Homo sapiens: one gene and its partner. The protein of the gene in region 1 interacts with the protein of each later gene in a biochemical or structural test. Each region holds a gene or a part of one and is shown in the gene's direction. Other genes may lie near its edges. The genes, in order: NR2C2AP and NR2C2.

The links.
Region 2: the proteins of NR2C2AP (region 1) and NR2C2 form a complex in vitro, tested with the Homo sapiens proteins (one study listed by BioGRID).

What each region holds. Positions count from the first base shown.
Region 1 is NC_000019.10:19,200,909-19,204,998, reverse strand, and holds NR2C2AP (nuclear receptor 2C2-associated protein), read left to right. Parts: upstream 1-1,584; 5' UTR 1,585-1,938; coding exon 1,939-1,976; intron 1,977-2,117; coding exon 2,118-2,208; intron 2,209-2,423; coding exon 2,424-2,529; intron 2,530-2,600; coding exon 2,601-2,668; intron 2,669-2,957; coding exon 2,958-3,074; 3' UTR 3,075-3,279; coding exon of another isoform or gene 3,280-3,350; 3' UTR 3,351-3,435; coding exon of another isoform or gene 3,436-3,525; 3' UTR 3,526-3,590; downstream 3,591-4,090. Other genes in the region: DNA-binding protein RFXANK, read right to left, coding at 3,280-3,350. UniProt on the Homo sapiens protein: May act as a repressor of NR2C2-mediated transactivation by suppressing the binding between NR2C2/TR4 and the TR4-response element in target genes.
Region 2 is NC_000003.12:15,041,536-15,045,347, forward strand, and holds part of NR2C2 (nuclear receptor subfamily 2 group C member 2), read left to right. Parts: exon of another isoform or gene 1-1,298; coding exon 1,299-1,473; 3' UTR 1,474-3,812. UniProt on the Homo sapiens protein: Orphan nuclear receptor that can act as a repressor or activator of transcription.

The sequences.
Region 1 (4,090 bases):
GAGCTTGCAGGAGGTGTCTAGTGAATCAGTGAACCAAATCTTCAGCTTGGTATCTGAGGCTTTGTTTGGCAAACTCCTGTTCATGCTTCAAAACCCACCTCACAGCCTGGGTGCGGTGGCTCACACCTGTAATCCCAGCACTTTGGGAGGCCAAGGCGGGCAGATCACGAGGTTAGGAGTTCGAGACCAGCCTGGCCAAGATAGCGAAACCCCATCTCTACTAAAAATACAAAAATTAGCCAGGCATAGTGGTGCGCACCTGTAGTCACAGCTACTCAGGAGGCTGAGGCAGGGGAATCACTTGAACCTGGGAGGCGGAGGTTGCAGTGAGCTGAGATCACACCACTGCACTCCAGCCTGGGCAACAAAGTGAGGCTCCGTCTCGAAACAAAACAAAACAGAAACAACAAAAAACACCCGACCTCGCATGCTCCCTCCTCCAAGAAGCCTTCCTTGACGTCCCAGCAGCATTTTCTGGGAAAGACAAACTTGGAGGCCAGGGCTCCTCTGTCCCAACAAGAACAAAAAGGGTTGATGAGGACTTCAGATACTCCCAACATCGTGGCCTTTTCCACAACTCTGCCTTTGGCCTCCGGGAGGCAGTGAAGTTCGGGGATTCCCAGGCTGCATTTAGTGGTTAGGGTAGAGTAGGTTAGAGTAGGTTAGGGTAGCCGTTAGGGTAGAGTAGGTTAGAGTAGGAAGAAAGACATTGTCATAGGAAGTCTCTCTGGCCGGGCGCGGTGGCTTACGCCTGTAATCCCAGCACTTTGGGAGGCTGAGGTGGGCGGATCACTTGAGCCCAGGAGTTCGAGACCAATCTGGGCAACATGGCGAAACCTCATCTCTACCAAAAAACAAACAAACAAACAAACAAACAAAATAGCCTGCCGTGGTGGCGCGCGCCTACTAGTTCCAACTATTCGGGAAGCTGGGTAGGAGGATTGCTGGAGCCTGGGAGGCAGAGGTCGCAGAGAGCCGCGATCCCACCATTGTACTCCAGCCTGGGTGACAGTGAGACCCCACTTCAAAAAAAAAAAAAAAAAAAGGCCGGGCGCGGTGGCTCAAGCCTGTAATCCCAGCACTTTGGAAGCCCCGGCGGCTGGATCACGAGGTCAGGAGATCAAGACCATTCTGGCTAACACGGTGAAACCCCGTCTCTACTAAATATACGAAAAATTAGCCGGGCGTGGTGGCGGGCGCCTGTATTCCCAGCTACTTGGGAGGCTGAGGCAGGAGAACGGCGTGAACCCAGGGGGCGGAGCTTGCAGTGAGCGGAGATCGTGCCACTGCACTCCAGCCTGGGCGACAGTGAGACTCCGCCTCAAAAAAAAAAAAAAAAAAAGGAAGTCTTTCGGATTCCAAAATCAGTCAAAATCAGTGCTCTACACCTTCGGGCGCCGAGGGACAGCGCCCCGTGCGCGCAGCCAGCCTTTTCCCTACAGCTTCAAGGGAACCAAGGTAAATTCAATCATCGAACCCGGGCCCTTTAAGAAGCGAGCATGAAGGGGCGGGGTCGAACCAAACCCCACCTCTGGAGCGTCCGCGGTCGGCGCCTGAATTACAACACGCATGCGCCAAGCCCACGCGGTTCCGGGTCCCAAGATTTGGCTCCAAGAGCTATTCGCAGAGAAACAGCCTCGCACAAAAAGCCACCGCCCCCGAAACCCGCGGGAAATCTGTTTCCTGTGAAAGGCCTGGCCTCCGGGCATTGGCGGTTTCCCTGATCCTCTCTCCCAAATTTTCCGGCAGGGGATTGATCGAGGCGACATTTAGGACTGGGGTGGGCGAGGGAGTGGCGGTTCTCGTCCCAAGTTACAGGTGAGGACGTTCAGGCCAAGGCGTAGCCAAGATCGCGCCGCCCTGTAGCTTGAGGAGGCGCCGGGATTCGAACCAAGGCTGTGCCCAATCCTAAGCCCTGCGAGGTCTTGTGGAACCGACATGACCCACTCTTTGGTTTGTCCAGAGACAGTGAGCAGGTAAGAGTCTGTGGGGACAGGCAGTGGCGAGGCCCTAAGCCTGGGGTCGAGCCCTCAGTGGACAGATCTGGGGGTCAGGCCCTCCGCGGAGCTGAGAGCTGGTCTCAGCCCCTCTCTTCGCCTTGATCCTGGTGCCTCCAGGGTGAGTTCAGTGCTGAATCGCAACACTCGGCAGTTTGGAAAAAAACATCTTTTCGACCAGGATGAGGAGACATGTTGGAACTCAGACCAGGTGAGGCGCCTCCCTCGACCCTCCATCTCTAGGGTGATTCAGATTCAGATCTCATGCCTTGAGAACGTCAGGGGGCCCTCATGGGTGGCCAGGAAAGGAACATGTGCCGAATTTCCTTCTTCCCCTCCATTCCAAGAACTATGTGAATGAGACAGGCATAGCAGGGCTCTGTGCCTGCAGTGAGCTTGCGCCTCAGTTTCCCTGTCTGCTTCCAGGGCCCCTCCCAGTGGGTGACGCTGGAGTTTCCCCAGCTCATCCGTGTCTCCCAGCTGCAGATCCAGTTTCAGGGTGGCTTCTCCAGTCGCCGGGGCTGCCTGGAAGGTACTAGAAGGCCCTGGGTGGCAGGGGTTCCAGGGGTCACCCCAGACACTCATTGCCTTTCTCTGCTGAAGGTTCACAGGGCACTCAGGCTCTCCACAAGATTGTAGATTTCTACCCTGAGGACAACAACTCGCTTCAGATATCCTGCCCCTGCTTCTGGGGTGGGTGGTCTGTGCCTCTGGAAGCTTTGGACTCACCCAAACCCGAATGGGAACCCTGATGTGTGATCTTGAACACGTGACCTCTAGGACTCCACTTTTTCTGTAAAATGGTGCTGATGACCACCTGTTCTGTGTGAGAGGCTTAGAGGGACCTGCAGCTTCCCCAGGTTGCCCACATCGGTGGAGTGTGAGCTGGGTCTGGAAGGGGTGGGGGCCTGCGGGTGGGAAACCAGAAATCACCAGTTTCCCTTGACTGCCCACGCTCACACTTTCCCCATACCAGCTGCTGAAGTGGACCGGCTGAAGGTGACGTTTGAGGATGCCACTGACTTTTTTGGCCGTGTGGTCATCTACCACCTGCGGGTGCTTGGGGAGAAGGTGTGAGACCTCTAGGGGCTGTCTCCTCCAGGAAGCCCTCCGGGAAGCACAGCAAAGTCCCTCATTCTGCACAGAAGGTTTATTGGTTCCTCTTGGGAAGGGTCCCCTCCCACCACCTGTCCAGAAGCTGCCTTTGAAGTCAGTTCTGGGTTTCCCCAGCTCTGGCTGACCATTTTGTTCCCTGAGTGTCTGAGTCCCCGGCAGGCGGCCTTCACTCAGGGTCAGCGGGCACCAGGTTGCTCTGGAAGAGCTTGAGGATGTGGTTCTCGATCACCTGTTGCACTGAGATGGGGCAGGGAAAAGGTGGGCTGTGAGCTTGAATCGGGAGTGGGGTGGAGGCACAGGCCAACCTGCGCTCTCCCCTTAGGGGACAAACAGGGACCCTTGCAGAGACCTGCATTACAGAGCAAAGCTGGGAGAACCGAGGACTCACCCCAGGAACCTCAACTTCCCCTAAGTTTGTAAAAATGCACTTTTGTAGCTTTTCAGAATTAATATAAAAATATTTCCTACCAAGCAAAATGTGTGAATTGTGACTTTCATGAAAAGATGAGCCTGGGCATGGTGGCTCACACCTATAATCCCAGCACTTTGGGAGGTCCAGTGGGGAGGACTGCTTGAGCTCAGGAATTTGAGGCCAGCTTGGGCAACAGAGCAAAACGCTGTCTCTACCAAAAAAATTTAAAAATTAGGCTGGGCTTGGTGGCTCACACCTGTAATCCTAGCACTTTGGGAGGCCAAGGTAGGTGGATCACTTGAAGTCAGGAAAGGCCAGCCTGACCAACATGATGAAACCCCATCTCTACTAAAACTACAAAAATTAGCCAGGTGCAGCCGGGTGTGGTGGCTCATGCCTGTAATCCCAGCACTTTGGGAAGCTGAGGCGGGTGGATCACCTGAGGTCGGGAGTTTGAGATCACCTGACCAACATGGAGAAACCCTGACTCTACTAAAAATGCAAAAAATTAGTTGGGCATGGTGGTGCATGCCTGTAATCCCAGCTACTTGGGAGGCTGAGGCAG
Region 2 (3,812 bases), on another chromosome or scaffold:
AGGAAAAAGAAAACTTTTTAAAAAGCACTATCCAGGGGCAGGGCGTGGTGACTCACACCTGTAATTCCAACACTTTGGGACACTGAGGCAGCAGGATTGTTTGAGCCCAGGAGTTTGAAACCACCCTGGGCAACATAGTGAGACCCCATCTCTATGACAAAAAAATGAAAAATTAGTCAGGTGCGGTGGTGTGCACCTGTAGTCCCAGTTACTCAGAAGTCTGAGGTGGGAGACTCACTTGAGCCTGGGAGGTTGCGGTTGCAGTGAGCTGTGATCACATCACTCCACTGCAGCCTGGATGACAGAGCAAGACACTATCTCAAAAAAACAAAAACAAAAAAGCACTGTCCAGATACCTACTATTAACATTTTGCGTATTCACTTCCAGAAATTTTTTATGTATTGTAATTGGGATCATAAAATACCAAAGGTTTTGTAACCTTTTTTCATGTAATATACAATAACAATACGTACTCTTCTTCATTTTCTATGGTTCCTATTTCCCTGCTAATGAAAAGGTAGGGTGTTTCCGGTTTGGGCTGTCACACATGGCACTGCAGTAGAGTCCTGGCACATGCTCCACTTGCTCACCTGAGATCCAGTCCTGGCTGGGGAATGGCCTGGTCACGTGGGACACTTGAGATACACAGTGTTCAGTGGCCCTCCAGGGCAGCATTGTGGTGCACCCTCCACCCCAAGTTTCTTCAAAATGAAAGCTATTTTACTGCTTTATTTATAATGCTAAATGAACACTGGAAATTAGAGCAGTACAAAAAATAAGAAAAAATCACCTCAAATCCCAATACCCAGAGCCCAACTGTTAGCGTGGTGAACATTTTCCCAATACTTTATATACACATCTATACTTGCTGTTTTATAATCTCCTTTTAAACTTTTATTGAGCAATATGTCATGGATGTCTTTCCTGGTCAGTAAATACAGGTTTGTATTATCGTTTTTTAAATGAGTCTCTAGCAGTTCATCATATGAAGACTCCTACTTTAGTCTGTCCTCTGTTGATGAATTTCCAGGTTTTCTCTTGGTGGTGGGGGTGAGGAGAGTTGGAATAAACAAGAGTGAAGGGAACACATCTGTACATACATTTTGTACTCATTTGGTTTTTTCTCATGATAAATTTCTATAAGAGGAACTGTTGAAATCAGAAAAGAGAGGTGGGTGGATGGTGGATCCGTTTGGTTTGATTCTGTGCAATACAGACGGGACCCCAGGAGCCTTTGCTGAGCTGTGGTTGAAGGGCATCAAACAGTCTCCTTTTCTAATGACACTCCCTTTTATAGATTGGCCCGGATCCTCGTTCGCCTGCCGGCACTCAGGCTGATGAGCTCCAACATAACAGAAGAACTTTTTTTTACTGGTCTCATTGGCAATGTTTCGATAGACAGCATAATCCCCTACATCCTCAAGATGGAGACAGCAGAGTATAATGGCCAGATCACCGGAGCCAGTCTATAGCGCAAACCACACACCTGCCAAGGAGCAACAGAATCCTTCCAGGACCGTTCACATACAAAGAAAAGTAGTGGTATTTTGGTATGTGCAAATATTTCCATATGTTAGCCATTTCCTGTCTGGTTTCTCCTTATCTGTTAATCCCAGACAATAGCAATTAAAAGACTAGTAGGATCCTTTCCTGACATAAGAAATGTTTTAATGCCTTTTGATGAAGCAGCAGATTTTGGAACAATCTTTTAACTCAATTTGTATTTAGAAATTCTCAAAGGGCAAAAAACAAAAAAAAAGGTTTTATAATGTCAGAGACTAGTATTAAAGAAAACTGAAAGAACCTGAGAGAATAGTATGTGTGTATATATATATATAAAAAAGTCCTTGGAATTATAGATACTAATTACCAGGGTAATAATATTAGCACTTTCTAAGCACTTATCAATGTGTAACGTTAGCAACATCTTGCCTGTGGGCAGGGCAAATGGAAAACTGTGTATGTCTTTTGCCGAAATGCTAATGATTTCTGTGAAAACTCACTAGGGTACAGGAGACAATCATTTATGTTTAAGAAAAGAAGGCATCATTCCTAATTGTGTGCACATGTTGTGGAGTTGAGCTGAATTCTGTGAATGGAAACGTGGCTCATTTGCATCATGCAGTAAGTGGGAGTGTGGTAGCACAGTCGGTGGTGACCCAGTTCAGAAGCTTCTAGCCATAGAGCAGACACTTGTCAGGTTCCCTGACTACTTGGTCCTGGTCTCTGATGGGCATCTGCAGACTCCTCTAGAACCTGGGGTTCTCCTTTGATGACTGGTTATCTGAATTGGATTGCAACTAGTCAGACATTAACTGCCAAATGAGATGTACAGTTCCTCCAGCAAGTGAAAACATCCCCAAGTCACATCCGCCGCTCGTGGCAGATGGAGCCTTGTGACCAAAAAGTGCAAGGTGGGCATTTTGAGCTCTTGACAGTACTTCCAATACAATTGGGGGTGCTTGTGTGTTTGTCCAGATGGAGGAGTGTGGCCTTGGAGTGTGAGCGTTACCTTCCCAGGGCTTTCCACTCCAAATGCCCCCTTGAAAAGGGCTCGTGTTTCTGCAGCTCCATCATAACTGTGAGGCTGGATTGGGGCTGGGCAGGAGCCTGCTGCCGCCTGGCGAGAGTGGTTAGGGCCTGGTAAAGCTGGATGGAAGGTTTCAGGACAATTTCTTCCTGTTGACCTTAAATACCAGAGATTTTAAAAATGTGTATAGACTCAGCATCTCTGTTGGCAAGTCTGTTAATGTTACCAGCACACTGTGCACTTTGGTTCCCCCAGGTGTGTGCCAGCCGACCACCCCGGAGCATTTTAAATGCAGGCTGCTTGCTCCTTAAAAACAACCCTCAATTTCCAGGGTGATAGTCTTTCTCCTCATAAATTGTAGCAACCAGAGTTTACAGCAAGAACAGTATGCGCTTAAAAGGAAGTTATGTCTAACTTCAAACACCCGTAAATTCCCACGGATGTGAATATATAGCAAGCTTTTCCTGTTTGAGAACAGTGGCATGTGGAAGACCCGGTCAATTGCTTTGTCTTTTGCTTTTTAAATAGTCCAGATTAAGAAAATACACCCTGTTGGGTTAAATTTGCCTCTCTTGATTTGTTAATCAGATGATATCCAAAAAGATCCCTGGACACTCCCCTGACTCACAGGTGCTCTGATCTGGCTCAGGCTGGCGCCACATGTGCTCCACAGGGGTGCAGTCTGGCCAGCTACAGACGCCCCTGTGGTGCCACATTGGACAGAATGGAAGCTGCTGCAGGCTCAAGGCAGAACAGGATGCTTGATCCTGAAGGGTTAGCAGCACTTTACGCAAGTCAGTGTTAGTAGGGTAAGTGGGAACAGTGTTTCCAACTTCTAAATTCTTGTTTGGATTTAATTATATCATTTTATAATTCTTGCCTTGGCAGCAAATTTTGGAGAGTAGTGGGAGTGGCCATTATAAAATGATGGAAAGGATTTAATTTTGCCAGCTTAAAGTAATTTTTACTTTTCTAACCCTGATGTGTTTTCAGTTTCAAAATTAAGACAAAAAACCAGCTGAGACAATGGAATTAGGGCAGGTTTGTTTCATTTCTGCTTGTGAAGGCTTTTAGTAGCAGGCATCCTGCAGCTCAGTGGTGCCTCTAACACAGATTGTTGCCTGCCTTCCGTCGTTTTGATCCTTGAGAGTGACCATGAGGGCCATGTTGCAGTTCCCTGGGAATACAAGCATAACAGCTTTCAGATCCCAGTTCTTGGTGTTGGTGAAAAGGTCTCCACCAGCCCCTCCTCTCATTCCCAGGTCATTCAGTGGCAGCCAG